Linked DNA regions of Homo sapiens: region 1 is linked to region 2. Evidence: fine-mapped expression QTL. A gene starts in region 2. The other region holds a variant in brackets. All regions are shown on one strand. Distances are between the middles of the regions. Region 1 holds the start of CCDC17 (coiled-coil domain containing 17). Region 2 holds the start of PRDX1 (peroxiredoxin 1).

Evidence for each region. PIP is the estimated chance that this variant, and not a neighbour inherited with it, causes the effect. A credible set is the group of variants that fine-mapping cannot tell apart.
Region 1: its variant is the best candidate, but not a certain one, in a credible set for the expression of PRDX1 in subcutaneous fat (TwinsUK, PIP 0.51).

Annotation. Positions count from the first base shown.
Region 1 is chr1:45,621,041-45,635,129 of GRCh38, reverse strand. CCDC17 (coiled-coil domain containing 17) reads left to right here and starts at 11,076. Exons shown (of 13, transcript NM_001114938.3): 1 at 11,076-11,394; 2 at 11,478-11,573; 3 at 11,691-11,913; 4 at 12,013-12,175; 5 at 12,296-12,379; 6 at 12,463-12,581; 7 at 12,782-12,889; 8 at 13,135-13,253; 9 at 13,395-13,492; 10 at 13,646-13,849; 11 at 14,017-14,089. The coding sequence starts at 11,221. It overlaps GPBP1L1 (GC-rich promoter binding protein 1 like 1), which reads left to right. Exons shown (of 13, transcript NM_021639.5): 9 at 894-1,034; 10 at 1,483-1,641; 11 at 4,524-4,648; 12 at 5,452-5,554; 13 at 6,722-7,826. The coding sequence ends at 6,874. The variant C/A (reference allele first, on the strand shown) is at 9,958.
Region 2 is chr1:45,513,773-45,528,843 of GRCh38, reverse strand. PRDX1 (peroxiredoxin 1) reads left to right here and starts at 6,960. Exons shown (of 6, transcript NM_181697.3): 1 at 6,960-7,015; 2 at 9,790-9,906; 3 at 13,037-13,190; 4 at 13,849-13,971; 5 at 14,207-14,337. The coding sequence starts at 9,801. RefSeq lists enhancers at 1,282-1,790, 6,482-6,561 and a silencer at 7,604-7,766.

The DNA.
Region 1 (14,089 bases), 110 kb before region 2:
CAGACTGACCATCACCTGGTACATGGTAGATAGTAAAGTTAATTCCTTTCCTAAAGCTATTATTGTGTCTTCTTTTAATACCCATCAATCAAGAAAGCAACCAGGAAGGGAATCCATTTCACTCAGGCCCCTTTGTCCTGGAGGTCCTCTGTTCTAAGTGTTTCATTCTGGAAAAATAAGTTGGAAGTTTTTCATTTGCTTCAGCACCACTCCACTGGCTTGCCACATCTTCCTTGGTCTCCTTGGACAGTGTGGTAACTCAGTATTCCAGCTTTCTATCATACTTGGGGTTATGGCCAGAGTGACAGAATGGGCCCAGACCCTGCAGAGTTGAGTAGACGGGCCTCCAGACTAAATAAATCAGGATTGTTCAACCATTTACAATAGCCACCCTGGCCTGGAACTAGCCTTTTGCCATCAGAGTTCCTGGAAAGCAGCAATTTTGTGATGCACTTTGTGGGCTATCAGGATTACATCCAAAGTTAACAAACACTACTAAAAAAAGTTTTGGGATTCAATAAATTAGGAAAATGCTGCATAACTGCCTCTCAAATTCTTATGTGCAGTTAAGTGCTTTGAGAAATTGCACAGTGAAGAACCTTGTTGAACTTTTTTCACCCCGGCACCTCCCAAACTCATTGAACTATTGAACTAGAGCCCTGTTTTTGGGAAGTCACTATTAATGTCCAATGGCTCTTCTGTATCCCATCTACCATTTTCCTTGAAGTGCCTAACCTCCGAAAGAGGTTGCATACTTCCCAAACATGTTAAGACAGGTAAGCCCTGGAAACTTATGTTCTCATGTAACATTTCACTCTTTGCTTTATGATTTTATAAGCTGAGCTTCTGTTTGTGTGCTTGTTCTGACTGATTTGTTCTTTCACCCTGTGTAGCCTAATGCATGGAAAGCTAACAGGATGGAGCACAAGTCAGGATCCCTTTCCTCTAGCCGGGAGTCTGCTTTTACCAGTCCAATCTCTGTTACCAAACCAGTGGTACTGGCTAGTGGTGCAGCTCTGAGTTCTCCCAAAGAGGTGAGTGAGGATGAAGCAGGACAGTCTTTTCTGAAATTGCCATTTCCCGTTCACTTAGATAACAAGTGTAATATGTATAGCTGTGACACTTGTTTTGTAGCTATATTTAGCTGAGAATAGTTTCTTTATTGATGTTTTCTGTTAGCATCCAAAAGTGGGCAGTGGCTAAATGGGATAGATGCTCTGTGGTGGACCAAGGTCATCCTATGTTAGACTGGCATTCTGCTGATGTCTGTAGAAAGATCAAAGAGGTGCCATGTAAGCCAGCTGCTCTTAACTATATAAACCCTGCAAAACTGAAGTTTGAACTGCTTAAATAAAAGGATTGTTTGGTTTAAGACAGAGTGATAAATAGGCTACCAGATTCTTGAAGTCAGCACTTAGTAGAAGAGAACCCCAGTTCTTGCTCTTTGCTGTCAGGAGCAACCTGTTTGTGGTATTTGCCCAGAGTCCCTCCAGCACCACCCCTCCAATTGAGATCAGCTCCTCTCGTCTGACCAAGTTGACCCGCCGAACCACCGACAGGAAGAGTGAGTTCCTGAAAACTCTGAAGGATGACCGGAATGGAGACTTCTCAGAGAATAGAGACTGTGACAAGCTGGAAGATGTAAGAGCATCCGCCTTTTCTGGGGGTAGCCTAGGAATTTTCCTTTGATACATACGTGATTTCTTCTTCTTAAAGGATAAAGATGTGGCAAGATTTTTAAATGTACAGAGATACTGTCTGTAGGTGTAACTGCCTTCTAGACCACATAGTAAAGTGAGTTTAATCCTTTTTTCAGCAAAAATGTTAAATTCGGGTTTATTTTAGTAATCACTCACCTATTGAAGTACATCTTGGTTGCTTCCAAGTGTTGGCAACTATGAATAAAACTGCAGTAAACATCCATGTGCAGGTTTTTGTGCTGGCATAAGTTCAACTCCTTTGGGTAAATACCAAGGAGCGCAATTGCTGGATCATATGGTAAGAGCATGTTTAGCTTGTCAGGAAACCACCAAACTGTCTTCCAAAGTGGTTGTGCCATTTTGCATTCCCACCAGCAATAAATGAGAATTTCTGTTGCTACACCTCCTCACCAGTATTCGATATTATCAGTGTTCTGGATTTTGGCCCTCCTGATAGGTGTGTAGTTTTAATTTGCACTTCCATGATGACATATCATGTGGAGCATCCATCTATGTATCTTCTTTGTTGATGTGTTTGTTCAGGTCCCTTACCCATTTTTTAATGAGGTTGTCTGTTTTCTTATTGCTAAGTTTTAAGAGTTCTTAGAGTTCTTTGTATATCTTAGTTAATAGTCCTTTATTAGATGTGTCTTTGACTACAGTTTCTCCAAGTCTGTGATTTGACTCTTCATTCTTTCTTATTTATTTATTTTGAGACAGAGTCTGGCTCTTATCACCCAGACTGGAGTGCAGTGGCACGATCTGGGCTCATTGCAACCTCCGCTTCCCGGGTTCAAGCGATTCTCCTGCCTCAGCTTCCTGAGTAGCTGGGATTACAGGCACCCGCCACCACGCCCAGCTAATTTTTGTATTCTTAGTAGAGATGGAGTTTCGTCATGTTGGCCAGGCTGGTCTTGAACTCCTGGCCTCAAGTGTTCTGCCTGTCTCAGCCTCCCAAAGTGCTAGGATTAAAGGCATAAGCCACCACATGTGGCCATATTTATTTATTTGTATTACTTTATTTTTTGAGATGGAGTTTCACTCTGTTGCCCAGGCTGGAGTGCAATGGAGCAATCTCAGCTTACTGCAACCACCGCCTTCCAGGTTCAAGCAGTTCTCCTGCCTCAGCCTCCCAAGTAGCTGGGATTACAGGCATGTGCCACCACATGACACACGTTATTTAGCTTCTTAGCTCTGGCCAGAGGACCAGGAAACTACAGTGCAGAACAAGAGGCAGAGGAAGGCCAACCTGCTTCCTTGAAGACCAAGAGCTCAGACCATAACTCTGGAACACAGCCTTGTGGTTCTGATAAGGAATTAGACCTGTGAGGATGAAAGAGTATACTATTTTCTGGAATTTTTTTTGTATGTAGTAGAGACAAGGTTTCACCATGTTGGTCAGGCTGGTCTCGGATTCCAGACCTCAGGTAATCCACCCACCTCAGCCTCCCAAAATGCTGGGATTACAGGCATGAGCTGCCATGCCCAGCCGGCCATATTTGTTTTTGAGACAGTGTCTCACTCTGTCGCCCAGGCTGAATGCAGTGGCATTAATGATCACAGTTCACTGCAGCCTCGACCTCCCCTCCTCAAGCTATGCCTCAGCCTCAGCCTCCCGAGTAGCTGGGACTATAGGCTTGTGCCACCATGCCTGGCTAATATTTTGTTTGGTACAGAGATAGCTTCTTGCTATGTTGCTCAGGCTGGTGTTAAACTCCTAGACTCAAGCAGTCCTCCCACCTTTGGCCTCCGAAAGTGCTAGGATTACAGGTGTGAGCAACTACACTGTCTTTTAATTCTCTTGACAGAGTGTTTTGCAAAGCAGAAATTTTTTTTATTTTAATGAAATCCAGCCTAATTAATTGTAGGCCAGTCACGGTGGCTCAAACCTATAATCCCAACACTTTGGTTGGCTGAGGTGGGCGGATCACCTGAGGTCAGGAGTTTGAGACCAGCCTGGCCAACCTGGCGAAACCCCGTTCCTACTAAAAACAGAAAAATTAGCCGGGCATGGTAGCATGCACCCATAGTCACAGCTACATGGGAGGCTGAGGCATGAGAATCACTTGAACATGGGAGGCGGGGGTTGCAGTGAGCCGAGATCGCGCCACTGCACTCCAGCCTGAGCAACAGAGTGAGACTTGATCTCCAAAAATAAGTAAGTAAATAAACAAATAAATAAATAAATAAATGTCATACCCAAGGTAATCTAAGTTTTCTTTTATGTTATCCTTATAGGAGTTTTATAGTTTTGTGTTTTACATTTAGGTCTGTGACCCATTTTGACTTTATTTTTGTGACGGCTGTAAGGTCTTTGTTTAGATTGATTTTTTTTTTTTTAGTGTGGCTGTCCAATTGTTCCCTCACCATTTGTTGAAAAGACTATCTTTTCTCCATTGTATTTCCTTTGTCAAAGATCAGTTGTCTATTTGTGGGCTCTCTGTTCTGTCCCATTGGACTATTTGTGTCATCTTCTGCCAGTACCACACTTTTTCCCCCCACACCTCTTATGAGCACTGTTACCATACTGTTTTAATTACTCCAGCTTTTGTGGTAAGTCTTGATGTCAGGTAATATCAGTACTCTGGTTTTATTCTTCAGTATTGTGTTGGCTGTTCTGGATCTTTTGCCTTTTCATTAAAACTTTAGAATCAGTTTTGTTGATGCAGCAGGTCCTCATTTGTAAATGGGGAAAAAAATCTGTGGGCTGAGGCTGTCTTTTGGAAAACACTTCCTGGGTCGTGAGTCCTTGATTTCATAGGTTGCTTATATTACTACAAAGGAACCTTAAACCAACTGTGTCCTTCCTTTTCCTTATTGCAGTTGGAGGACAACAGCACACCTGAACCAAAGGAAAATGGGGAGGAAGGCTGTCATCAAAATGGTCTTGCCCTCCCTGTAGTGGAAGAAGGGGAGGTTCTCTCACACTCTCTAGAAGCAGAGCACAGGTAAGTGAGGAGGACATCACAGGGCATGCAGTGTCTGACCTTTAAGGACCTTGAACATACTGGAGAAGATATCTCAGATAGATAGGTCCCACATGCAGAGAGAAGTGGCCCAGTCATAACTTGTTCTCTGTGTATGCCCCAGGTTGGCCTGTTGCTCATCAAGCATTCTCTCTCAAACTCAGCCATCTTTTCCACAATCTACTCTCCAATACTTTAATACTTTTAACTTCAGGCCGGGCGCAGTGGCTCATGCCTGTAATCCCAGCACTTTGGGAGGCTGAGGTGGGTGGATCAGTCAAGGTCAAGAGTTTGAGACCAGCTTGGCCAACATGGCGAAACCCTGTCTCTACCAAAAATACAAAAAGTAGCTGGGCATGGTAGTGTGCGCCTGTAATTCCAGCTACTAGGGAGGCTGGGACGGGAGAATGGCTTGAACCCGGGAGGCGGAGGTTGCAGTGAGCTGAGATTGTACCACTGCACTTCAGCCTGGGTGACAGAGTGAGACTCCATCCCAAAAAAAAAAAAAAGCCAGACTGCAAGTGCTCTCTTTCTTCCTTACACTGTCTTGGTTTTGCTTCTACTGTCTCTTCTTTAGCTCTTCCTCTCTCAACTGTGAAGAGCCTCCATTTATTTACAGCACCCAGGTAGCCACAATTAAAGCTTGTCCCACAGGGAGGAAAACAAAATTCCTTCTTTAACATCCATTGCCCCTGGGCAGAAAACTTTTCTGTGAAAAGTGGTGGGCTGTTCACTTAGGCTTAGTGATGTTGTATTCTCTTTACCTGTCCTTCTGCGTCCACCAGGTTATTGAAAGCTATGGGTTGGCAGGAATATCCTGAAAATGATGAGAATTGCCTTCCCCTCACAGAGGATGAGCTCAAAGAGTTCCACATGAAGACAGAGCAGGTATGTTGTAAACCTTCTTCCTAGAGACCAGTTAGTAACCAGGAGAATAAGGAGTCAAGACAGTTCTTGCCCTGAGGGAGCAAGTTTAATGTGAGAGAAAGATCGGGTGGGGGGGGGGGGGATTACCTTAGTAGAAATGTAGTGGGGCCCCTAAATCTGCCTGGGAAATAAGGATCCCCAGTGTTATATACAAAAACCAAGTGTCAGTGATTAGCAGATTCCAAAAAATAGTATGCTCTTTCATCCTAACAGCTCTAACTCCTTATCAGAACCACAAGGCTGTGTTCCAGAGCTATGGTCTGAGCTCTTGGTCTTTAAGGAAGCAGGTTCACCTTCCTCTGCTTCCTGATCTGCACTGTAGTTTCCTGGTCCTCTGGCCAGAGCTAAGAAGCTAAATAGCTTGTGTCAGTTTATCCAGCAGTTGCTTGGATTCTTTCTCTGAATAAAACACTGCTAGATCTTAGGGTGAACAAGACAAATGGGGTTTCTATAAAAATCCTTGAACTTCTGGTGGCCTGTATTTACAGCACAATTGGCCAAGTCCTTAAAAGGGGCATGGCACAAGCTGATGTGAGACCTTGCCACTTAGAACTCTGTTAGAAATAAGGACTTATGGCTGGGCACAGTGGCTCACGCCTGTAATCCCAACACTTTGGGAGGCCGAGGCAGGCAGATGACGAGGTCAGGAGCTCAAGAGCATACTGGCCAATATGGTGAAGCCCCATCTCTACTAAAAATACAAAAATTAACTAGGCGTGGTGGTGTGCGCCTGTAATCCAAGCTACTTGGGAGGCTGAGGCAGGAGAATCGCTTGAACCCAGGAGGCGGAGGATGCAGTGAGCCAAGATTGTGCCATTGCACTCTAGCCTGGGTGACAGAGCGAGATTCCGTCTCAAAAAAATAAATAAATAAAAAGAAATAAGGACTTTCAAGCCCCATCCCAGACATTCTGAATCTGAATCTGCATTTTTGAAAGATGCGTAGATGACTCGTAAATTAAAATTTGAAAAGTACTGGTATAAGAGATCTCAGAGGGTCTCTTAGAAGCACCCCCCGCCCCACATTCTACCTAGAATTGAATTGAGGCCTGGCCTTTCCCAGGGCTTATGGGTCAGTACAGTCATTGATATTTTTTTCTTTTTTCTTTCTCTCCCATGCTAACCATAGCTGAGAAGAAATGGCTTTGGAAAGAATGGCTTCTTGCAGAGCCGCAGTTCCAGTCTGTTCTCCCCTTGGAGAAGCACTTGCAAAGCAGAGTTTGAGGACTCAGACACCGAAACCAGTAGCAGTGAAACATCAGATGACGATGCCTGGAAGTAGGCATATAAATGCTCACAGTTAAATCTGACCCAGTAAACTCTGTGTGTTTAGGGAGTATACAAAAGAAATCGTTCTTTTCCTTTTCTTATGTTGTTGAATACTTCATTCACAAGGGAAATAATCATATCCCAAAGAGAGAGCAATTGGCTTGTTTTGCTTTTGTTATTGTTCTTCCCTGTTATCTGCTTTATAGAGAGAAGTTTGTGTGGTGGGACAGATTTTTTAAACACACTCACACACACACACACATACACACCCAGTATATATGGGGCGATGCACAGGTAGGAGCTGGCAGTGCAGGGAAGAGGAGACACTGGTCTGCAGCAACAGCTTCTACTACCAGCCCTTGGGGCACTCACCCCTGTGATCAAGCAATCATTGTCAATGACAAAGTGACTATTGAAGTTATAATTGTATTAAATTAATGCTAATAATTTGGATATTTTATTTTATTTTTGGCTGCTCGGGTAACTTTAGCCCTTAACCAAGCATATGTGGGTTTTTTTGGTTGTTTTTTTTTGTTTTTTTTTTCTTTTTCCTTTTTGGGTACAGCTGTAAAATATTTGGATATAGGAAATGTTGTGTTATTCTTGCAGCCTTGATATTCAGGGTGGATTGTAAAATATAAATTTTTGTGAGATTTCAAAGATTAAGATTATTTTGATAACATTATTTACAGATTTAAAAGATGTGGTTATCACAAGTCTCGAGGGGGAAACTACTGCATAAAATAACTAACTTGGAATAAATATTTTGCATCAGTTTGGATTGTCTTGTGTAAGAAGTATATTTTCTTTAAAATTAGATGAGTGGATTCTTTTTTAGGGGAAATATTTTTAGAAGTTGGGGGGAAATGTGAATTCAGACACAACTGTTTCTCTATTTTAGCAGATACTTTTTTGATGCAGAAAAACCTGTGCAATAAATTACCAGTAATAAAGTCAGAAACCAAGTTTTTTTTTTTTCCTGAAACTGTTTTTTAGTGCCCATGTATTTACCAGTGTACGTATTTTAAGGGAAGTCTGTTCTGTTTTCCTACTAAATAAGAACTTGGAGTGGGGGTTGGGGGAGAGTTGGACGATGGTAGCTGAATGGCTAGTGAAGGAAGCAGGTTTTTTCATTCAACAAATACTTTTTTTTTTTTTTTGAGACGGAGTCTCACTGTGTCACCCAGGCTGGAGTGCAGTAGCGATCTCAGCTCACTGTAAGCTCCGCCTCCCGGGTTCCCACCATTCTCCTGCCTCAGCCTCCTGAGTAGCTGGGACTACAGGCGCCTGCCACCACGCCTGGCTCATTTTTTGTATTTTTAGTAGAGATGGGGTTTCACCGTGTTTGCCAGGATGGTCTCGATCTCCTGATCTTGTGATCCACCCACCTCGGCCTCCCAAAGTTCTGGGATTACAGGCGTGAGCCACCGCACCCGGCCCATTCAACAAATACTTTCTAAGCCCGTGTTGTATGTCCCAGGCATTATGCAAGGCTCTGAGGATGCAAGGAGTGCCCAGCCCAGTAGGGGAGAGAATAGACAGTGATGTAAGAAAAGGACAGGGGTTCAAGACCAGCCTGGGCAACACAGTGACCTGTCTCTATAAAAAACAAAAACATTAAAATGGTCAGGTCCAGCCAGGCGTGGCTCACGCCTGTAATCCCAGCACTTTGGGAGGCTGAAGCGGGTGAATCACCTGAGGTCAGGAGTTCGAGACCAGCCTGGCTAACATGGTGAAACCCCATCTCCACTGAAAATACAAAAAATTAGCCAGGCATGGTGGCGGGCGCCTGTAGTCCCAGCTACTCGGGAGGCTGAGGCAGGAGATTGGCGTGAACCCAGGAGGCAGAGCTTGCAGTGAGCTGAGATAGCGCCACTGCACTCCAGCCTGGGAGAAAGAGTGAGACTCTGTCTCAAAAAAAAAAAAAAAAAAAAACAACCAGGCATGGCAGCAAGCACCTGTAATCCTAACTATTTAGGAGGCTGAGGCAGGAGAATTGCTTGAGCCCAGGAGGCAGAGGTTGCAGTGAGCCCATACTGCACCATTGCACTCCAGCCTGGGCAACAGAGCAAGACTCTGTCTCAAAAACAGAAACAAAATAGACAGGTCCACGTGGTAGCACACACTTGTAGTCCCAGCTTCTTGGGAGGCTAAGGCAGGAGGATTGCTTGATTCCAAGGCAGTTCAGGGCTACAGTGAGCCATGATGGCACCACTACAATCCAGCCTGGATGACAGTCCTGCTCCCGCCTCTTCGGCCTAGAGCAGGAGATTAGAGAACTACAAGCTGTCTCTTGAGGGAAAAAAAAAAAAAATGGTAGTAGTATTTCTACTGAATGCCTATCACTGTTGCACCATTGTAAAGTCAACCAGTCAAAAGTCTTAACCATTGAAAATTGGGACAAACTTAGTTGTTGAAAAGGAGGTTTTGATTTGGGCTTTGCCATTTACTTGTTTTCTGAGAACATATTTCTAAAAATGTACTCTTTATGTCAGTTGGAATTAAGCTGAACTGAGATGACATACTTTGAACACTTTGTAACTTGCTGCTGGTGGGTCATACCTTGGCTTTAGGTACTGAGTAGGGAAATGTCTTAAGTCCCTGTCTTGTTTAGAAAAGGGAGTTTCGGCCAGGCATGGTGGCTCACACCTGTAATCCCAGCACTTTGGGAGGCCGAGGCGGGGGAATCACGAGGTCAGGAGATCGAGACCATCCTGGCTAACACTGTGAAACCCCGTCTCTACTAAAAATACAAAAAATTAGCCAGGCATAAGGCTGGGCGCAGTGGCTCACGCCTGTAATCTCAGCACTTTGGCACGCCGAGGCGGGCGGATCACAAGGTCAGGAGATCAAGACCATCCTGGCTGACACGGTGAAACCCCATCTCTACTAAAAATACAAAAAAAATTAGCCGGGCACAGTGGTGGGCACCTGTAGTCTCAGCTACTCGGGAGGCTGAGGCAGGAGAATGGCTTGAACCCGGAAGGCGGAGCTTGCAGTGAGCCCAGATAGTGCCACTGCACTTCGGCCTGGGCGAAAGAGCGAGACTCCGTCTAAAAAAAAAAAAAAAAAAAAGCCGGGTGTGGTGGCAGGTGC[C/A]TGTAGTCCCAGCTACTGGGGAGGCTGAGGCAGGAGAATGGTGTCAACCTGGGAGGCAGAGCTTGCAGTGAGCCGAGATCGTGCCATTGCACTGTAGCCTGGGCAACAGAGCGAGACTGTCTCAAAAAAAGAAGAGAAAAGGGTGTTTCTTGGCCGGGCGCAGTGCCTTACGCCTGTAATCCCAGCACTTTGGGAGGCCAAGGCGGGCAGATCACGAGGTCAGGAGATCAAGACCATCCTGGCTAACATGGTGAAACCCCGTCTCTACTAAAAAATACAAAAAATGAGCCAAGCGTGGTGGTGGGCACCTGTAGTCTCAGCTACTTGGGAGGCTGAGGCAGGAGAATGGCGTGAACCCAGGAGGCAGAGCTCATTGCAGTGAGCTGAGATCGCGCCACTGCACTTCGGCCTGGGCGACAGCGAGACTCCATCTCAAAAAGAAAAAAAAAAAAGTAAAGAGGGTTTCTTAAGAAATATGCGGTCACCTCAGAGCTCCTCCATATATTTTGGGAGTGGGAGTGGAGTGAAGAATTTCACCAACAGTTCAGGGTCTTTCTGGCTTCTGGCCAATCTTGGGAGAGAGAAGGGGTTTTTTTCTGGACTTGATTCCCTCATCTGATAGATTCATTCTGTTCGCCCACAGCTTTCATTTCTTGGGCTGTGCTGATTATCTTCGTCTACAGCTGAAAAATGAGGAATCAGGGAATGGGAGTTAGGGAGACTGCTATCCCTGGTGCGACATGGTTTCCAGGCAGAATGCTGGAAAGGTCAGAGTGCCTCCTTTGCCAGGTAGTTCTCTGGATTGGAGAATGGTACAAACTGTTACATCCACTTGGGAGTACAGCAATGAAAAAGATGACACTTGCCTTTTAGAGGCTATTAAATGACCAATGATGTAGTAAGTGATAAGGGCCCAGCCTAGTCTAGGAGGCAGCTGCTTTTTCCTCTTTATTAATAGTCAGGGAAACCAAGCTACAATTAGAGACTTGCCCACGTTCAGACTTTGTAACACTTTTTCAAGCCAGTGGCTCCTCCCAAACGGCCGAGGTTTCCCCACCCATTCTCCTGACCTGCCCAGCCCTGTGGTTGCTGTCCAGGGAGCTAAGGCTCTCCCCAAACAAACTTGAAGATCTCACAGACCTAATAGACACGGCCTTTCCTCTCTGCCTCTGGCTTTATGTCTCTTTCATCCTCCTCTGCCTTTCCCCTGCCCTTGATCCCTTCTGCAGGTCTTGGCTGGTTTCAGGAAACGGGTCCCATCCCATGGACTCCCACTCTGGGGAGCCTGCGCTCCTGCCCTGTGGGACCTGTGACATGGTTTTCCGCTCCTCAGCTCTGTTAGCCACCCATACTCAGCGCTTCTGCATTGGCCACCCGACCCAAGAGATGACATTTGGAGCACAGGCATCAGTTGCCACTGAACCCCAGCGGGCCGCGGTAAGGGCCTCCATGGCCATGGGTGGGGATTCAAAGGAGCCAGGACCTTTATGATTCCTCATCCTACTACACCCTATCCCCAGGTTGTGCCACAAGAACACCAGGGCGTGCCACAAGAACCCCAGGGCCTCCCAGACCAGCAGGCCAGTAGATCTGCTCTAAAGAGGTTAACAGAGGAGGTAGAGCTACCTACCTTCCCCCAGGGCTCAAAACGTTGAGCGTCTTCCCCAAACCTGTAGATCATACTTGGGACAGATTCTGCCCACGCAGAGATCGCGGATCGCTGTTACCTCCAGGTGCAGTGGCTGCGGCTATCCCTACAGGAAATGCGGCCCTGGATAACAGAGGTCCCCAGGGTGTTCGCGGGGCCCTGGACACGTTCCGAGGCGCGGCCTCAGAGTCCCATGTCCGAGGCGGTGGGAAGCCCCAGCGAGCGGCTGCGGGCGCTGTTCAGGACTCGCGCGAGGCGCGTGGCGGAGATGGAAGCGCAGAGCCGGGCCCTGCAGCTACGCGGCGAGGGTGAAGGAGATGGGGGACGGGGACCAAGGACCTCCTCTGCCCTCGCCGTTTGGCTTAAGCTTGCTCGGGCCGGTTCTGACTCGGCCCGCATTCCCTCAGAACTGAGCCGACGCCTCCAAGTTGTGGCCTGTACGCGGGGCGGGATGTCCCGCCTCTTCGGCCTGGAGCAGGAGATTCGAGAACTACAAGCTGAGGCCGGGAGGACGCGGGGAGCTCTAGAGGTGTTGGGGGCCCGCATTCAGGAGCTGCAGGCGGAGCCAGGGTGAGACCCGACTAAGCGGATCCCCGGAACATGCGGCTCCGGGGTGGGAGGGGCGGGCTGGCTGCAGCCCCGGGGCCTCTGATGCGTTACCGTCTCCCTGCGCGTCGCCTGCCACCCCAGGAACCCGCTGAGCTCCCGGCGAGAGGCAGAACTTTATTCTCCAGTGCAAAAGGCCAACCCGGGAACTCTGGCTGCCGAAATCCGGTGAGAGCCGGGGCCGGAGATGGGCATAGGGCGAAGCGCTGAGCAGTTCTGGAAAGACGGCCTTCCTGTTCCCCACTCCCTAGGGCGCTGCGGGAGGCCTACATTCGAGACGGGGGCCGGGACCCCGGCGTGCTGGGCCAGATATGGCAGTTGCAGGTGGAGGCGTCTGCACTGGAGCTGCAGCGGTCGCAGACCCGCAGAGGTGAACAGGAGGGCCTCTCGCCAGCGGTGGTCAGTCCTGGGAGGAGAAAAGAACTCGAGGGAGGGCCTGTGGCTGTGGATGGCATGTGAGCTGACAAGTCCAGCCTTATCCGAAGAGCCTTAGCGCTGGAGAGCTGCTCACAGCCGGACGCGGCCAGTCACCAGAGGTCAAAGGTGACAGGTCACACTTGTTCATCGCAGGAAGGGCAGGTGCCACCTCAGGGGAGCTTCCAGTAGTGGAGGCTGAAAACCGGCGCTTGGAGGCAGAAATCTTGGCCTTGCAAATGCAGAGGGGTCGGGCACCCTTGGGTCAGTGAGCACCCCAACCCTATCCCATCCCACTTATCTCTCCCCAGCAGGCCTGGCTCAGGCAGACAGTGCATGGGGAACAAGACCCGTGTTTGTGACTCCCCTAGTTCATGTCTGCACGTGTGTATCCCTGTATCCACAGGGCTCCGCCAACCCATTTGTGGGCCCAACTCTTGGGGGAGGGGTATCTCAGCTAATTACCTGCTTTGTCCAACTTAGGGGCACCCTAACTCTTCTGCTCCTAGGGCCCCAGGATCTGCGACTCCTGGGGGATGCCAGCCTACAACCGAAGGGGAGGAGAGATCCCCCACTCCTCCCGCCACCGGTGGCACCACCGCTGCCACCACTTCCAGGCTTCTCGGAGGTTCAGTTCTTGGGTGGGGCAAAGGCTGTGAGGACACGGGGTGGGTTGGGGGAACAGGTTGGAGGCAGCTCTGCTCTGAGCAGTTGGGGGAACATGAGCAGCTACAAGGCTTTCTGGAGGAGTCAGCTCTCTTCCCCACAGCCACAGCTTCCTGGAACAATGACCAGAAACCTGGGCCTGGACTCACACTTCCTCCTGCCCACATCGGACATGCTGGGCCCTGCACCCTATGATCCTGGGTGAGGCCCGTGCCACCTTCGACAGCCTCTGTGACTTGGCCAGCACTGCTGGTTAAGGGAGCCCACTAGGACCAGATAGGGTTAGGGACCTGCCTGAGAGGAGGGAGGTTGAAAGGAGTTGGGTATTTCTGTGCTAAGACTTGTGTTCCCCAGGGCTGGCCTGGTCATTTTCTATGATTTCCTGCGGGGCCTTGAGGCTTCCTGGATTTGGGTGCAACTAAGGACTGGCTTGGCACGCGATGGACGGGATACAGGAAGGACCACAGCGTTGCCCCCAGCCCTTTGCCTGCCCCCACCTCCTGCTCCCGGGCCCATGGGCAACTGTGCCATCCTTGCCAGCAGGCAGCCTGTGCCCAGGTCAGTAGGTGGGGATCATGACTCTGGTACTCTGCCACAGTTGAGGCTTATCCACCATTCTGCTAAGTTTTCTCATCTGTATACAGAGGCCGCTGGCTCTAAAGGGCTAAGTCCTAGAAAGGGACTGTAGCTCTGGCTTCCGACACTGCTTTTTGGTTATTCTACAGACTACCACCCTCATCATCAGTATCTTTGGTCTGTGAGCTGCAGGTCTGGCAGGGGCTAGCATGGGCTAGGGCA
Region 2 (15,071 bases):
ACAATTGTGGGGAGAGGGTCAGCAGACAAACACGTGAACAAAGGTCTTTGCATCATAGACAAGGTAAAGAATCAAGTGCTGTGCTTTTAGATATGCATACACATAAACATCTCAATGCTTTACAAAGCAGCATTGCTGCCCGCATGTCCCACCTCCAGCCTTAAGGAGGTTTTTCCCTATCTCAGTAGATGGAACGTACAATCGGGTTTTATACCGAGACATTCCATCGCCCAGGGACGGGCAGGAGACAGATGCCTTCCTCTTGTCTCAACTGCAAGAGGCATGCCTTCCTCTTATACTAATCCTCCTCAGCACAGACCCTTTACGGGTGTCGGGCTGGGGGACGGTCAGGTCTTTCCCTTCCCACGAGGCCATATTTCAGACTATCACATGGGGAGAAACCTTGGACAATACCTGGCTTTCCTAGGCAGAGGTCCCTGCAGCCTTCCGCAGTGTTTGTGTCCCTGGGTACTTGAGATTAGGGAGTGGTGATGACTCTTAAGGAGCATGCTGCCTTCAAGCATCTGTTTAACAAAGCACATCTTGCACAGCCCTTAATCCATTTAACCCTGAGTTTGACACAGCACATGTTCCAGAGAGCACGGGGTTAGGGGTAAGGTCATAGATTAACAGAATCTCAAGGCAGAAGAATTTTTCTTAGTACAGAACAAAATGGAGTCTCCTATGTCTACTTCTTTCTACACAGACACAGTAACAATCTGATCTCTCTTGCTTTTCCCCCACAGATGGAGTTTCGCCATGTTGTCCAGGTTGATCTCAAATTCCTGGGCTCAAGTGATCTGCCCACCTCGGTCTCCCAAAGTGCTGGCTTTACAGGCATGCACCACCATGCCCGGCGTCCATTATTTTATTTTGCATTTGTTGTTACAATTATCTGAGAGCATTTAGTTTCATGGTTTATAGGTTTAATTTTAATGGTTTATAAGTTTATAGCAGGCTGCTATCAGGTTAGCAAGTCCTACTGTTAAAATGATTGCTGTCCTGGGACATGGGCTTTATACTTACATTGAATTGCCTTACCTTTTACATTTAGTTGGCTGTGAAGAAGAGACAATGGCTGTTGATGAGTCAGGTAACTGTCTCCCACAGCAAATTAGTGCAGTGATGTAACTACTGCTTTTTTTTTTTTTTGAGACGGAGTCTTGTTCTGTTGCCCAGGCTGGAGTGTAGTGGTGCGATCTTGGCTCATTGCAACCTCTGCTCCTGGGTTCAAGCAATTCTCCTGCCTCAGCCTCCCAAGTAGCTGGGATTACAGGGGCACACTGCCACACCCGGTTAATTTTTTTTTTTTTTTTTGTATTTTAGCAGAGACGGGGTTTCACCATGTTGCCCAGGCTGGTCTTGAACTCCTGAGCTCAGACAATCTACCTGCCTCGGCCTCCCAAAGTGCTGAGATTACAGGCATGAGCCACCACACCCGGCATTTTTTTTTTTTTTTTTGAGATGGAGTCTCGCTCTTGTCATCCAGGCTGGAGTGCAGTGGTGCCATCTTGGCTCACTGCAACCTCCGCCTCCCGGGTTCAATCACTTGTCCTGCCTCAGCCTCCCAAGTAGCTGGGACTACAGGTGCCCACCACCATGCCCAGCTGATTTTTGTGTTTTTAGTGGAGACGGGGTTTCACCATGTTGGCCAGGCTGATATCGAACTCCTGACCTCAGATGATCCTCCTGCCTTGGCCTCCCAAAATGTTGGGATTACAGGCGTGAGCCACCGCTCCCGGCCTGTTTAACATTATTTTAAACCTCAAACCTGCTTTTCTTCCAGTGTTTCCTATGTCACAGGTTAATGACATCACTCATGTCACCAAGAAACTGGATTTAATTTACTCTTTCCTTTCATCCTAAATCCAATTAATCCTAAAGCCTGAAGAAATATACCTTGTATTTCCTTCTTTCTACCCTGCTGCTAATGTCATATTACAGTTCTGAGACTTCTCTTGTCTGGATCATTGCCGTGGCCTCCCAATTGCTCTCTTTGCCTAATCTCCTAGTCACTAAATTCATTCATCACACAGCTTCCAGAGTCAACTTCCTGAAACGTAGTTCAAATAATTTAATTCTACATCTCAAAAGTCTTCAACACATTGTAACATTTATTAAGTACTTCTATGCCAGTTACTGTGCTAGACTTGTTACTACAAATATAAATAAAACAAGGGGAATAATTCCCATGCTAATGGTGAGCAAATGAAGAGAGCACAATGGAATATATCTAAAAATAGAACTAGAGGTATACATCAGACCCTGCAAGAAAGCCTCCTCCCCATGGTTCTGAAATCTTTACTGTCCTTTGGAGAGACTCTACAAATCACTTAGACTTGTTCAACAGATTTCTTCTTTTTTCAGTACTCTGTCCAGTTATTTCACTTTTATGATCTTAAGGGGATAGACTGTTAACATTTCTCTAGGCTAGGATAACTCTTTTTTTTTCCTGTTTTTTTTTCTTTGTTTGTTTAGAGACTGGTTCTTGCAGCACTGCCTAGGCTGGGCTCAAACTCCAGGGCTCAAGTGATCCTCTCACCTCAGCCTACCAAGTAGCTGGGACTATAGTCACATGCCAAATGTGCTCCACTCTCTTTTAGTTCTTTTTTCTTTTCTTTTTTTCTTTTTTCTTTTTTTTTTTTTTTGAGACAGAGTCTTGCTCTGTTGCCCAGGTTGGAGTGCAGTGGCGGGATCTCAGCTCACTAAAACCTCTGCCTCCCGGGTTCAAGTGATTCTCCTGCTGCAGCCTCCTGAGTAGCTGGGATTGCAAGTGCCTGCCACCACGCCCAGCTAATTTTTGTATTTTTAGTAGAAACAGGTTTTCACCATGTTGGTCAGGCTGGTCTGGAACTACTGACCTCATGATCTGCCCACCTTGGCCTCCCAAAGTGCTGGGATTACAGGCTTGAGCCACCATGCCCGGCTTTTGTTCTTTTTTTTTAGACGGAGTCTCACTCTGTCACTCAGGCTGGAGTGCAGTGGCGCGATCTCGGCTCACTGCAACCTCCGCCTCCTGGGTTCAAGAGATTCTCCTGCCTCAGCCCCCTGAGTAGCTGGGACTACAGGTGCACACCACGAAACCCAGCTAATTTTTGTATTTTTAGTAGAGATGGGATTTCTCCATGTTGGCCAGGCTGGTCTCAAACTCCTGACCTTGTGATCTGCCCGCCTTAGCCTCCCAAAGTGCTGGGATTACAGGCATGAGCCACCGTGCCTGGCCTTGTTCTTGAATTAGAAAAATAAACTCAAGTGCCCAGCCCAATGCCTGGCATATGGTGAATACAATAGGTGGCAATTTTCTTTGGGCTGAAGTATGACTGTATGTACTGTGTATTGGTTTAGCCTGCCCATAGCCAATAACCATCCATTATTAAGCTCTGAACTTTCATGCTGCCCTTGCTCCTGCAAGAAAGAAAGGGGAGTCTCTCTGAGCCTACGCTGGCTGCTGGCTCGGGTGGCTGCCTGATAAAAAAGAATAAAAGTTACATAAAAATTAAAAAAAGGAATAATGCCAACTAACTATTCAGCCTCAGGCAAAGAAGGAAAAAGCAAATAAATCACGTCTATGCAAAGTAGTATGATAAATAACAAAAATTGAGATGCTCAATGAGCATGAGACAGCACTTCCTCATTCATTATCCCACTATAAGGGCCAAGGGAGTTAGTGAGGGAGCTGGGGACAGAGACAGAAACATGATACTATTGATTGAATGCTCACTGACTGAGCTCCTATTTTATATCAGATGCTTTGTTGTGACTTTGGGGACACAGAGACAGATGTCACCCACATCCTACTCTCCAGAAAGTCACTCTAGCAGGCAGAGGAAGAAATGTAAAACTAAAATTGCTTAAAAGATTTTTTTGGCTATACAAGCTATTGTTTGGACACAAAGGAGGGGAATTGTAAATCCTGGGAATGAGTAAAGGTAAGAAACAGCCGGAGAGAAAGTAATGCTGAAAGACATGTTTTCTCCAGGGAAAGAGTTTTCCAGGTTCAAACAAAAGTCTGAAGGCGGCCGGGCTCAGTGGCTCACTCCTGTAATCCCAGCACTTTGGGAGGCTGAGGCAGGTAGATCAACTGAGGTCAGGAGTTTGAGACCAGCCTGGCTGACATACTGAAACCCCGTCTCTACTAAAAATACAAAAAATTAGCCGGGCGTGGTGGTGGGCGCCTGTAATCCCAGCTACTTGGGAGGCTGAGGCAGGAGAATTGCTTGAACGCTGGAGGTGGAGGGTGCAGTGAGCAGAAGTCGTGCCATTGCACTCCTGCCTGGGCAAGAAAAGCGAAATTCCATCTTAAAAAAAAAAGTCTGAAGGCTTGAAACAACTACACTGTGTTCTGGGTGTTATAAGTGTGAAGGATGGAAGAGTTATACTAATAGCAGCTAACATTTCTAATTTATAATAAGAACTAAGTACTGTACTGAACTACATAGATAATCACAATAAAGTATTAATATTATTCCCATTTTACAGTTGAGAAAAGTAAGGTTTAATGAGTTTAAGACTTGCCCAAGTTCACACCTAAAATTACAGTGAGGAGTTTTTGTGTTTGTGTGTGTGTGTTTTTTTTTGAGACAGAGTTTCGCTCTTGTTGCCCAGGCTGGAGTGCAATGGCGCTATCTCAGCTCACTGCAACCTCTGCCTCCCTGATTCAAGCGATTCACCTGCCTCAGCCTCCAGAGTAGCTGGGATTACAGACATGCGCCACCACACGTGGCTAATTTTGTATTTTTAGTAGAGATGGGGTTTCTCCACGTTAGGCTGGTCTCGAACTCCTGACCTCAGGTGATCTGCCCTCCTCAGCCTCCCAAAGTGCTGGGATTACAGACATGAACCACCGCGCCCGGCCCTGACAGTGAGGAGTTTTAACTCAGTAAATTGACTACAGAGCCTCAGCTTTTATTTTATTTTTTATTTTTCTTTTCTTTTTAAATTTTACTTTCTTTCTTTCTTTAGCCCCAGCTTTTAAACCACGAATAACAGTGACATGATCAGACTTCAGAAAGATTTCCTTCAGCTGCAGTGGAAGGGATGGATAAGAGATAGTGTTAATTGAAATGAGTGACTAAACTGACTAAACCATGTCACAGACACTTTTGTGGCTGTTTCTTCCCCAGCTTTTAAACCACGAATAACAGTGACATGATCAGACTTCAGAAAGATTTCCTTCAGCTGCAGTGGAAGGGATGGATAAGAGATAGTGTTAATTGAAATGAGTGACTAAACTGACTAAACCATGTCACAGACACTTTTGTGGCTGTTTCTTCCCAAGAGGTTCTCAGGAGGTTTTTAGTATTTATACATTTTCCTTGAAAAGTGGGGGTGGGAAAGATTGAGGCAAAGACTTTAGCTAATGCTCAGGAAATCTACGTTTTGTTTTTTGAGACGGAGTCTTGCTCTGTTGCCAGGCTGGAGTGCAGTGGTGCTCTCGGCTCACTGCAACCTCTGCCTCCGGGTTCAAGCGATTCCCCTGCCTCAGCCTCCCAAGTAGCTAGGACTACAGGCGCGCCACCACACTCGGCTAAGTTTTTGTATTTTAGCAGAGACAGGGTTTCACCATGTTGGCCAGGATGGTCTCGATCTCCTGACCTTATGATCCGCCCTCCTAGGTGGCCTAAATCTACATTTTTACATAAGATAAGGTGAATGTTTGAAGAAAAAGGGAATGGAGGAAGAAAACAATTATGTGGTGGACTCAGGGTAATCTAGTAGTAAGGTACTACTAGAAAGGTAGAAAGTAGTCTAGTAGAAAGGTAATCTAGTAGTGAACATTTATGGAATTTGTGGAATAGAGGCCAGGTGCGGTGGCTCGCGCTTACATTCCTAGCACTTTGGGAGGCCAAGGCGGGCGGATCACCTGAGGTCAGGCGTTGGAGACCAGCCTAGCCAACATGATGAAACCTCGTCTCTACTAAAAATACAAAAAATTAGCTGGGCGTGGTGGTGCGTGCTTGTAGTCCCAGACACTCCGGAGGTGAGGCGGGAGAATCGCTTGAGCCCGGGAGGTGGAGGTTGCAGTAAGCCAACACCGTGCCACTGCACTACAGCCTGGGCGACAGGGTGAGTGAGACTCCGTCTCAAAAAAATGTGGAATAGAACAAACTTTAGTTTTAGGAACTAGACTTTATATTGTAGATCTAGTTGCAATTGACACGTCCTTGTTTTATGGGAGGCTACATACTTTAAAGGTTTCCAGGGGAGCAAATAATTAATTATGATTTTGTGTATGTGTGTTTGTGGGGGGTAGTCATCAGGAAATGTCTGAGGCCTTTTGCCTTACCGTGTGGGTCTGGCTAATGTGTAATGTTTTGACTCAAGATTGTAAAGTCAAATTATTCATCCGGGGAGAGGATGGTCGTGTAACTGAATCAGCCTCCCAAGATGAACTTTCCCTCTGGCGTAAGTTTAGGAGTCCTGATATTTTATTTTCCTTTACAACAGAAAGCAGCAACCCTGTAATTAAAGAGAACAATGAAGGAAGCTATCTAAGCCATGAGGGTTACTGAGGATCTGCGCTGGGGTTAAGGCTGCGAACTTAAGAAATATTTGGATAGACAGTTCTCATGGCTTGGTGTGGTTAGACGTGGTCCTCCGTGGGCAGCAGCTAAGACGCTTACTCCAGTTTGGGCATTGAGGGCACAGTGCGTAGTGGTCCTGGAAGTAAAGAGAATCCTGGTTTTCCGCAGAGATCTAGGATTAACCTAAGCGTTCGGGTTCGGGAGCGGCCACAAGGGCGCCTCACTCCAACCTCAGCCATCCGCAACAGGGTGGGGTATTAGTATTTTTCCGCACCCGCCCCAACGAGGGAAAGCGCCGAGTCATTCCGGCGGGGCGCGCCGGGCGGGGCTCGGGCCACATCCCCCTCCTCTCTCTCCTCCTCCGGCACCCCCGTCCGTTCCGACTCTCGCGAGATCCCTACTGGCTATAAAGGCAGCGCCCCGGAGAGCTCTTGCGCGTCTTGTTCTTGCCTGGTGTCGGTGGTTAGTTTCTGCGACTTGTGTTGGGACTGGTGAGTGTGGGCAGTGCGGCCCCTGCGGAGTGAGGCGCGGCGCGCCCTTCTTGCCTGTTGCCTCTTCCTCCTCCTGTCCGGGGCCCGCCCGCGCTCGGGTGGGGGTGCTGTGATGCGTGAGGCAGCCGGGGGAGGCCCGGAGTCCGAGACTGCTTGAGCGCTGCGCACACCCCTCTCGTGGGCCCCCCACGTAGGTGCGGGAACCTGGTTGAACCCCAAGGCAAGCGTGGACTCGAGTCGAGTCTTCCCCCGGCAACTCGAGCACGTGGCGCGGCGTCTGGGCGGGCTGGTGGTGGGGGTCTCCGAGACTAGCCTCCTGCCGGACGGGGTGGGTTCGGGAAGCTTCTGGAATGGACCTGTATCCAGACTCGTGGCTGTAGAAGACAGCCTCTATGTATTTGGCTGTTCCGGGTCCTGAGCCTTGACTAGCTGCGGAGCTTCGGGTACCCTTTCCCCGTCTTTATTTTCCTGTACGTGGAATGGAGTTAGCGATGAGCCCAAATGTCCCCGCTGAAGCACTCTCTCTGCTGGTGCTTTCTCCAGTGCTGGGGAGGGACAGGGGGCACCTGAAGTGGGGTTTAGGGATGTGGCCCTCTACGCTGGGCAGATCCCCTGAAGGGGCCCGGTGGCGGCCTGAATCCCAGCAGCCTTTACCCCGAATTGGTTGGGTTTTGTACTTGGGGGCCACTTGGGAAAGAAGGATTGGACGAGAAGGCCATTTGGGGGCACCAAGTTGCAGCATGCCTTAGTTTTTGGTTTTTGTTTTTTGTCGTTAAAGGTGTTAAGGACTTTTTAAAAAACAGTTAAAAGTTTGCTAAGATCCATGCTTACAAAATTTCTTTTGCTTGTGGTATTGTGAACTAAGAACTTTGGGACTTGGAAAAGCTTTCAGACCGCGGCTTAGTGGGTTAAATCTCTGTTTTTTGAGCTAGAGTCTCGCTCTGTCGGCCAGGCTGGAGTGCAGTGGCGCGGTCTCGGCTTACTGCAACCCCTGTCTCCCGAATTCAAGCAATTCTTCTGCCTCAGCCTTAGGAGTAGCTGGGATTACAGGCTTGTGCCACCAAGCCCCGGCTAATTTTTGTATTTTTTTTTTTTTTTTTTTTTTGAGACGGAGTCTCGCTCTGTCGCCCAGGCTGGAGTGCAGTGGCTGGATCTCGGCTCACTGCAGCCTCCGCCTCCCGGGTTCACGCCATTCTCCTGCCTCAGCCTCCCGAGTAGCTGGGACTGCAGGCGCGTGCCACCACCCCCGGCTAATTTTTTGTATTTTTGTTAGAGACGGGGTTTCACTATGATGGCCAGGCTGGTCTCGAACTTCTGACCTCAGGTGATCTGCCTGCCTCGGCCTCCCAAAGTGCTGGGATTACAGGCTTGAGCCACAGCGCTTGGCCAAGATCTCAATACTAATCTTGGTGTTGATCTGGGTGAATCCAGTGCAACCTTCCTTTTCAGCAGTAAATTGATTCTTATACTTGTTTTCGCCCTGGGATATTAGCCCCAAAGTCAGGAACCCACCTTCACAAATGGTGAAGGGAATTCTAGGGCTTACACAATACCTAAAGATTTGAAATTAAGCAGATGCCAATCAATATCTTGGTCTTGCCTCTTTTTTTTTTTTTTTTTTTTGGAGACAGAGTCTCACTCTGTTGCCCAGGCTGGAGTGCAGTGGCGCGATCTCAGCTTACTGCAACCTCTGCCTCCCGGGTTCAAGTGATTCTCCTGCTTCAGCCTCCTGAGTAGTTGCGATTACAGGCATGCACCACCACGCCCGACTAATTTTTGTGTTTCTAGTAGAGACGGGGTTTCACCATGTTGGCCAGACTGGTCTCGAACTCCTGACCCGGTGATCCGCCCGCCTGAGCCTCTCAAAGTGCTGGGATTACAGGTGTGAGACACTGCGCCCAGTGGTCTTGCCTCTTAAAAGTTGGACTGACTGGAAGGGCGCGGTGGCTCACGCCTGTAATCCCAGCATTTTGGGAGACTGAGTTGGGCAATCATCTGAGGTGAGGAGTTTGAGACTAGCCTGACCAACATGGAGAAATCCCGTCTCTAATAGAAGTACAAAAAAATTAGCCGGGTGTGGTGGCCTGCGCCTGTAATCCCAGCTACTATGGAGGCTGAGGCAGGAGAATCCCTTGAACCTGAGAGGTGGAGGTTGCAGTGAGCCGAGATAATGCCATTGCATTCCAGCCTGGGCCCCAAGAGCGAAACTCCGTCAAAAAAACAAAACAAAACAAAAACAAATAAAACAAGTTGAATTAGTTATAGGTTGTGTGCTGTCTTGGACAAAGCTACCTGGAGAAAAGTCAAATATGCTTCTGATGTTATGAAGGCAGGTGGAGGCACAGTGATGGGAAAGGTCAACGTGACTTTTGGGGAGCCAAACAAAAGTGTTTGTGGCATTGTGCATTTGGATTCTGGTTTGAGAGTCTTCATCTGCCTCTCTCTCTGCTTCTGTATAATGAATAAGATGCCACTGCACTAATTATGGTTCAGAAAGAATGAGAGGTTATCTCAGTATATAAAGAAATTGCCTTGCTGTTTTTAAATGAAAACAAAGGCTGAGATTCAGAGACTTGTTTCGTTCCAAAAGTTGGAAAGCTCAGACTGTGACCCTTGACTGCTGGCTGGAGCTTCTTACTAAAACAACATTTAATGTATTCAGGGACACTGGACAATGCCTTGATTGTTTACAGCTAAGTCTCTTTAAGTAGGTGAAGGCTGCTGGTTATGTAGAAAATTAAGGCTTGTTTCTAATTCATTTCTGTTATTTCTAGCTGATAGGAAGATGTCTTCAGGAAATGCTAAAATTGGGCACCCTGCCCCCAACTTCAAAGCCACAGCTGTTATGCCAGATGGTCAGTTTAAAGATATCAGCCTGTCTGACTACAAAGGTGAGAGAATTAACACTGGGCTCATTGAGATGGAGTTATTTTATATTCTAGGGGTGGCTTGTTAGATTTGTGTCAATGTTGTTTGACTGTAAAATGTTTTGTCTCCTAGGAAGAAGTATTTAGGTTGTTACCTTCATGTTGAAGTGGTGATTATCAAGTGATTACAGGGTATATATCCTAGGACCAAACCACTTCTGGAGAAACCACATGCTTCATTATGTCTGGACATACTAGCTCAATTATCTTTTCAGTATTCCTCGTCTATTTTCTTTCTTTATTTTTATTTTTGAGACAGGGTCTCATTCTGTCACCCAGGCTGGAGTGCAGTGGCGCAGTCATGGCTCACTGCAGCCTCTACCTCTCTGGGCTCAGGTGGTCCTCCTACCTCAGCCTCCCAAGTAGCTGGGACTGTAGGGGCATGCTGCCATGCCTGGCTAATTTTTGTACTTTTTTTTTTTTTTTTTTTTTTTGAGATGGAGTTTTGCTCTTGTTGCCCAGGCTAGAGTGCAATGGCGTGATCTCGGCTCACCACAACCTCCACTGCCCAGGTTCAAGCAATTCTCCTGCCTCAGCCTCCCGAGTAGCTGGGATTACAGGCATGCGCCATCATGCCTGGCTAATTTTTTTTTGTATTTTTAGTAGAGACGGGGTTTCTCCATGGTGGTCAGGCTGGTCTCGAACTCCTGACCTCAGATGATCCGCCCACCTCGGCGTCCCAAAATGCTGGGATTACAGGCATGAGCCACCACGCCTGGCTTAATTTTTGTACTTTTTGTAGAGCTGGGCGCCATGTTGCCCAGGCTGGTCTCCAACTCCTGGGCTCAAGCCCTCTGCCTGCCCTAGCCTTTCAAAGTGCTGGGATAACAGGTGTGAGCCACTGCCTCTGGCCCTCCTCTATTTTATTATTGGAGAAATACTCATTATCTCTTGTTATAAGAGACATTCTACATTTAAAGTCTCAGAGCTCACTCAAATCTCTGGAGCTGTGACACTGCTCGTTCAGTTTGTTTGGGTCACGTATATATCACAGCTGTTAATATTAGGCTGAGGGCTAGGCACTTTCCCTTGCCTGTTTTGACCCCGGAGGAGAGTTGATATTACAGATGGAACAACTCTCCTTTCTGTTGTCATAGTTTTTTTTTTTTTTTTTTTTTTTGAGACGGAGTCTCGCTTTGTCGCCCAGGCTAGAGTGCAGTGGTGCGATCTCAGCTCACTGCAAGCTCCGCCTTCTGGGTTCATGCCATTCTCAGGCCTCAGCCTCTTGAGTAGCTGGGACTACAGGCGCCCGCAACCATGCTTGGCTAATTTTTTTGTATTTTTAGTAGAGACGGGGTTTCACCATGTTTGCCAGGATGGTCTCGATCTCCTGACCTTGTGATCCGCCTGCCTTGGCCTCCCAAAGTTCTGGGATTACAGGCGTGAGCCACTGCGCCCGGCCTCTGTTGTCATAGTTTCATGCAGACACTTGGCAAGTTCTGTTGAGGCTCCTCCTTTCTTTACCTTGTAGTTCCAGAGCAGCTCGATCTCCTGGGACAGTTGAGGATATAGATTCCTTAGAATGCTAACCTGAAACTCAGGTGTCAAGTGTCCTTTTCTCAGTGGTGTAGCATTAGTCCCTGGAGTTAGTTTTTGGTAGAACATTTGACTAGGTTTCCTGACATAATCACACTTTGTTCTTGGGGCTTCTCCCAGCAAACAAGGTAAGTTGCACCATAGGGAGGTGACCTGGGCCCAGGGGTATAAGCAGGAGGTCTAGGAGGAGCTGTTCTCTGCCCTCCAGAGCTTGACCTGCTGAGGCCCCAAAGTGCTTGTTAGGCAAAGCTGGAAGGGTTGTTTAGATGAGTTAGTTTCCAGTGATACTGCAAAGTGGTAAATGTCAAAAAGGGCTGCTTGTTTGGCTTTTTTTTTTTTTTTTTGAGGTGGAATTTTGATCTTGTCGCACAGGCTGTAGTGCAGTGGCATGATCTCAGGTCACTGCGACCTCCATCTCCCCGGTTCAAGTGATTCTCCTGGCTCAGCCTCCCCAGTAGCTGAGATTTCAGGCCCCCGCTGTCACACCCAGCTAATTTTTGTATTTTTAGTAGAGACATGTTTTACCATGTTGGTCAGCCTGGTCTTGAACTCCTGACCTCAGGTGATCCACCCGCCTCGGCCTCCCAAACTGCCTCCCAAACTGCTGGGATTACAGACGTCAGCCACCATGCCACCACACCCAGCCTGTTTGACTTTTCAAACATTGCTGCTACCTGGAAATGAGTGAATATTTGGAATTGTTCTAGTATTTAAGCCTGGTGGGTGTGGCGAGAAGGCTGCCTGGCCAGTTTGAAGATCTGTTATTTCAGTGGTTAATCCCAGTGACTTCATTAAAATTGCAGCTAGAAGTTCTGTTACTCACTAGTACTTTTGTCTTTTCTGTCTCTCTCTGTCTCCCTCTTTCTCTCTCTCTCTCTGTGTATATGTATATATATATTTCTGTTGTTTTGAGACAGTCTTGCTGTGTTGCCCAGGCTGGCCTCAAACTCCTGGGGTCAAGGGATCCTCCCACCTCAGCCTCCCAAGTAGCTGGGACTACAGACACGCACCACTGTGCCTGGCTTAAAATTTTTCCTGTCCTGTCAGGCACGTTAGGAACACATGTGATCACTTAAACCATGCTTGTTCCATTACTATGGTTCATCACGGGAGAAGTGCAAAGGCTGTGACTTCTTATTGGTGTCTTATCTCTACAGCAGAGGAGTACTGCAATTCAGCTTTCTCTGGGTATTGTTAAGCATTGGCATTAGGCCATGCTTATAAGTGCATCCTTGCTTTTGCTATCTTTGGAGAACTTGGTGTTTATGTTAATTTTAGCCACTCAGAAAAGATCAAAATTAGACTGAACAGTGTTTACTCTGTATTGGTAGCTATGACATGGAGGCAGGAGAATAAAGTATGGGATTGGAAGTTTTTTTCATTCAGGTATTCCTAATGCACCAGGTTCTAAAAGTAGCTTCTAGGAGACATCTGTATTGAGCATCTTGGCAGTTAGTGGTTATTGTGTCAGCCATCAACTTGCTTCTTTTTGTATAGGAAAATATAAAGCAAGGAAGTCTGTGTCAAATGCTAACCATGACTCCGATTTTCCCCCCAGGAAAATATGTTGTGTTCTTCTTTTACCCTCTTGACTTCACCTTTGTGTGCCCCACGGAGATCATTGCTTTCAGTGATAGGGCAGAAGAATTTAAGAAACTCAACTGCCAAGTGATTGGTGCTTCTGTGGATTCTCACTTCTGTCATCTAGCATGGTAAATCTCTTGGTCTATTTGGCATGTGAACTTTTTTTTTTTTTTTTTTTTTTTTGAGATGGAGTCTTGCTTTGTCGCCCAGGCTGGAGTGCAGTGGTGTGATCTCCGCTCACTTCAAGCTCTGCCTCCCAGTTTCACGCCATTCTCCTGCCTCAGCCTCCTGAGTAGCTGGGACTACAGGCGCCTGCCACCATACCTGGCTAATTTTTTGTATTTTCAGTAGAGACGGTGTTTCACCGTGTTAGTCAGGATGTTCTTGATCTCCTGACCTCGTGATCTGCCCACCTCAGCCTCCCAAAGTGCTGGGATTACAGGTGTGAGCCACTGCACCTGGCTGGCATGTGAACTTTTAAAACAGCAACTGGGAAGCTTTGGCAATAGACTTTCAAGTATTGCCTTCTCATTGAAGGGAGTGCAAAGTCTGACTTTCTCTTATTGCTCTCATGACCTGGCAGCAGAGAAGAAGCAGCTTCAATTGCAGTTGAGTGTACCCTAGTGACCTACCTTAACTGTTCTCAGCATTCACTTTATTGCTGGAAAACGGAAAAAAAACAGTCTTTTTGGAAAGTTAGATTAGGAATATGGGAAAGGGGAAAGAGGAATGCGTACAGTCAAGTCAAGAGTTTGAATGTAACTGTATGTTTGCCTTTTGCCATAGGGTCAATACACCTAAGAAACAAGGAGGACTGGGACCCATGAACATTCCTTTGGTATCAGACCCGAAGCGCACCATTGCTCAGGATTATGGGGTCTTAAAGGCTGATGAAGGCATCTCGTTCAGGTATGTCATCAGGACAAGTATCCAGTTGGCTGAAAGCCTTTTATTTGGAGAGATCTAGAGCCCTGATCTGTAGAGACTCCTTGTCATTTCATTCCTTTATGCAGGGGCCTCCTCACTAAGGCCAGGCCAGTAGGAGTGTGGAGACCAGTCCATTTCCTTCAGGCTTCAAGCCTCTGTATTCTAACAAAGCACATCTCTAAACCTGTATTGCTTTTCCTTTCATCTCTTTTCCCAGGGGCCTTTTTATCATTGATGATAAGGGTATTCTTCGGCAGATCACTGTAAATGACCTCCCTGTTGGCCGCTCTGTGGATGAGACTTTGAGACTAGTTCAGGCCTTCCAGTTCACTGACAAACATGGGGAAGGTAAGCCATCTGTCTGATAACAGGACAACAGAGTGGTGGTATGAAGGGGTGGGTTGCCCCTTCACACCTGTGGGTGTTTCTCGTTAGGTGGAATGAGAGACTTGGAAAAAGACACGTAGACAAAGTATAGAGAAAGAAATAAGGGGGCCCAGGGGACCAGTGTTCAGCATACAGAGGATCCCGCCGGCCTCTGAGTTCCCTTAGTATTTATTGATCATTCTTGGGTGTTTCTCGGAGAGGGGGATGTGGCAGGGTCATAGGATAATAGTGGAGAGAAGGTCAGCAGATAAACACGTGAACAAAGGTCTCTGCATCATGAACAAGGTAAAGAATTAAGTGCTGTGCTTTAGATGTGCATACACATAAACATCTCAATGCCTTAAAGAGCAGTATTGCTGCCCGCATGTCCCACCTCCACCCCTGAGGCGGTTTTCCCCTGTCTCAGTAGATGGAACATACAATTGGGTTTTACACTGAGACATTCCATTGCCCAGGGACTGGCTGGAGACAGATGCCTTCCTCTTGTCTCAACTGCAAAGAGGCGTTCCTTCCTCTTTTACTAATCCTCCTTAGCACAGGGTGTCAGGCTGGGGGACCCCGGTCAGGTCTTTCCCTTCCCACGAGGCCATATTTCAGACTATCACATGGGGAGAAACCTTGGACAATACCTGGGTTTCCTAGGCAGAGGTCCCTGTGGCCTTCCGCAGTGTTTGTGTCCCCGGATACTTGAGATT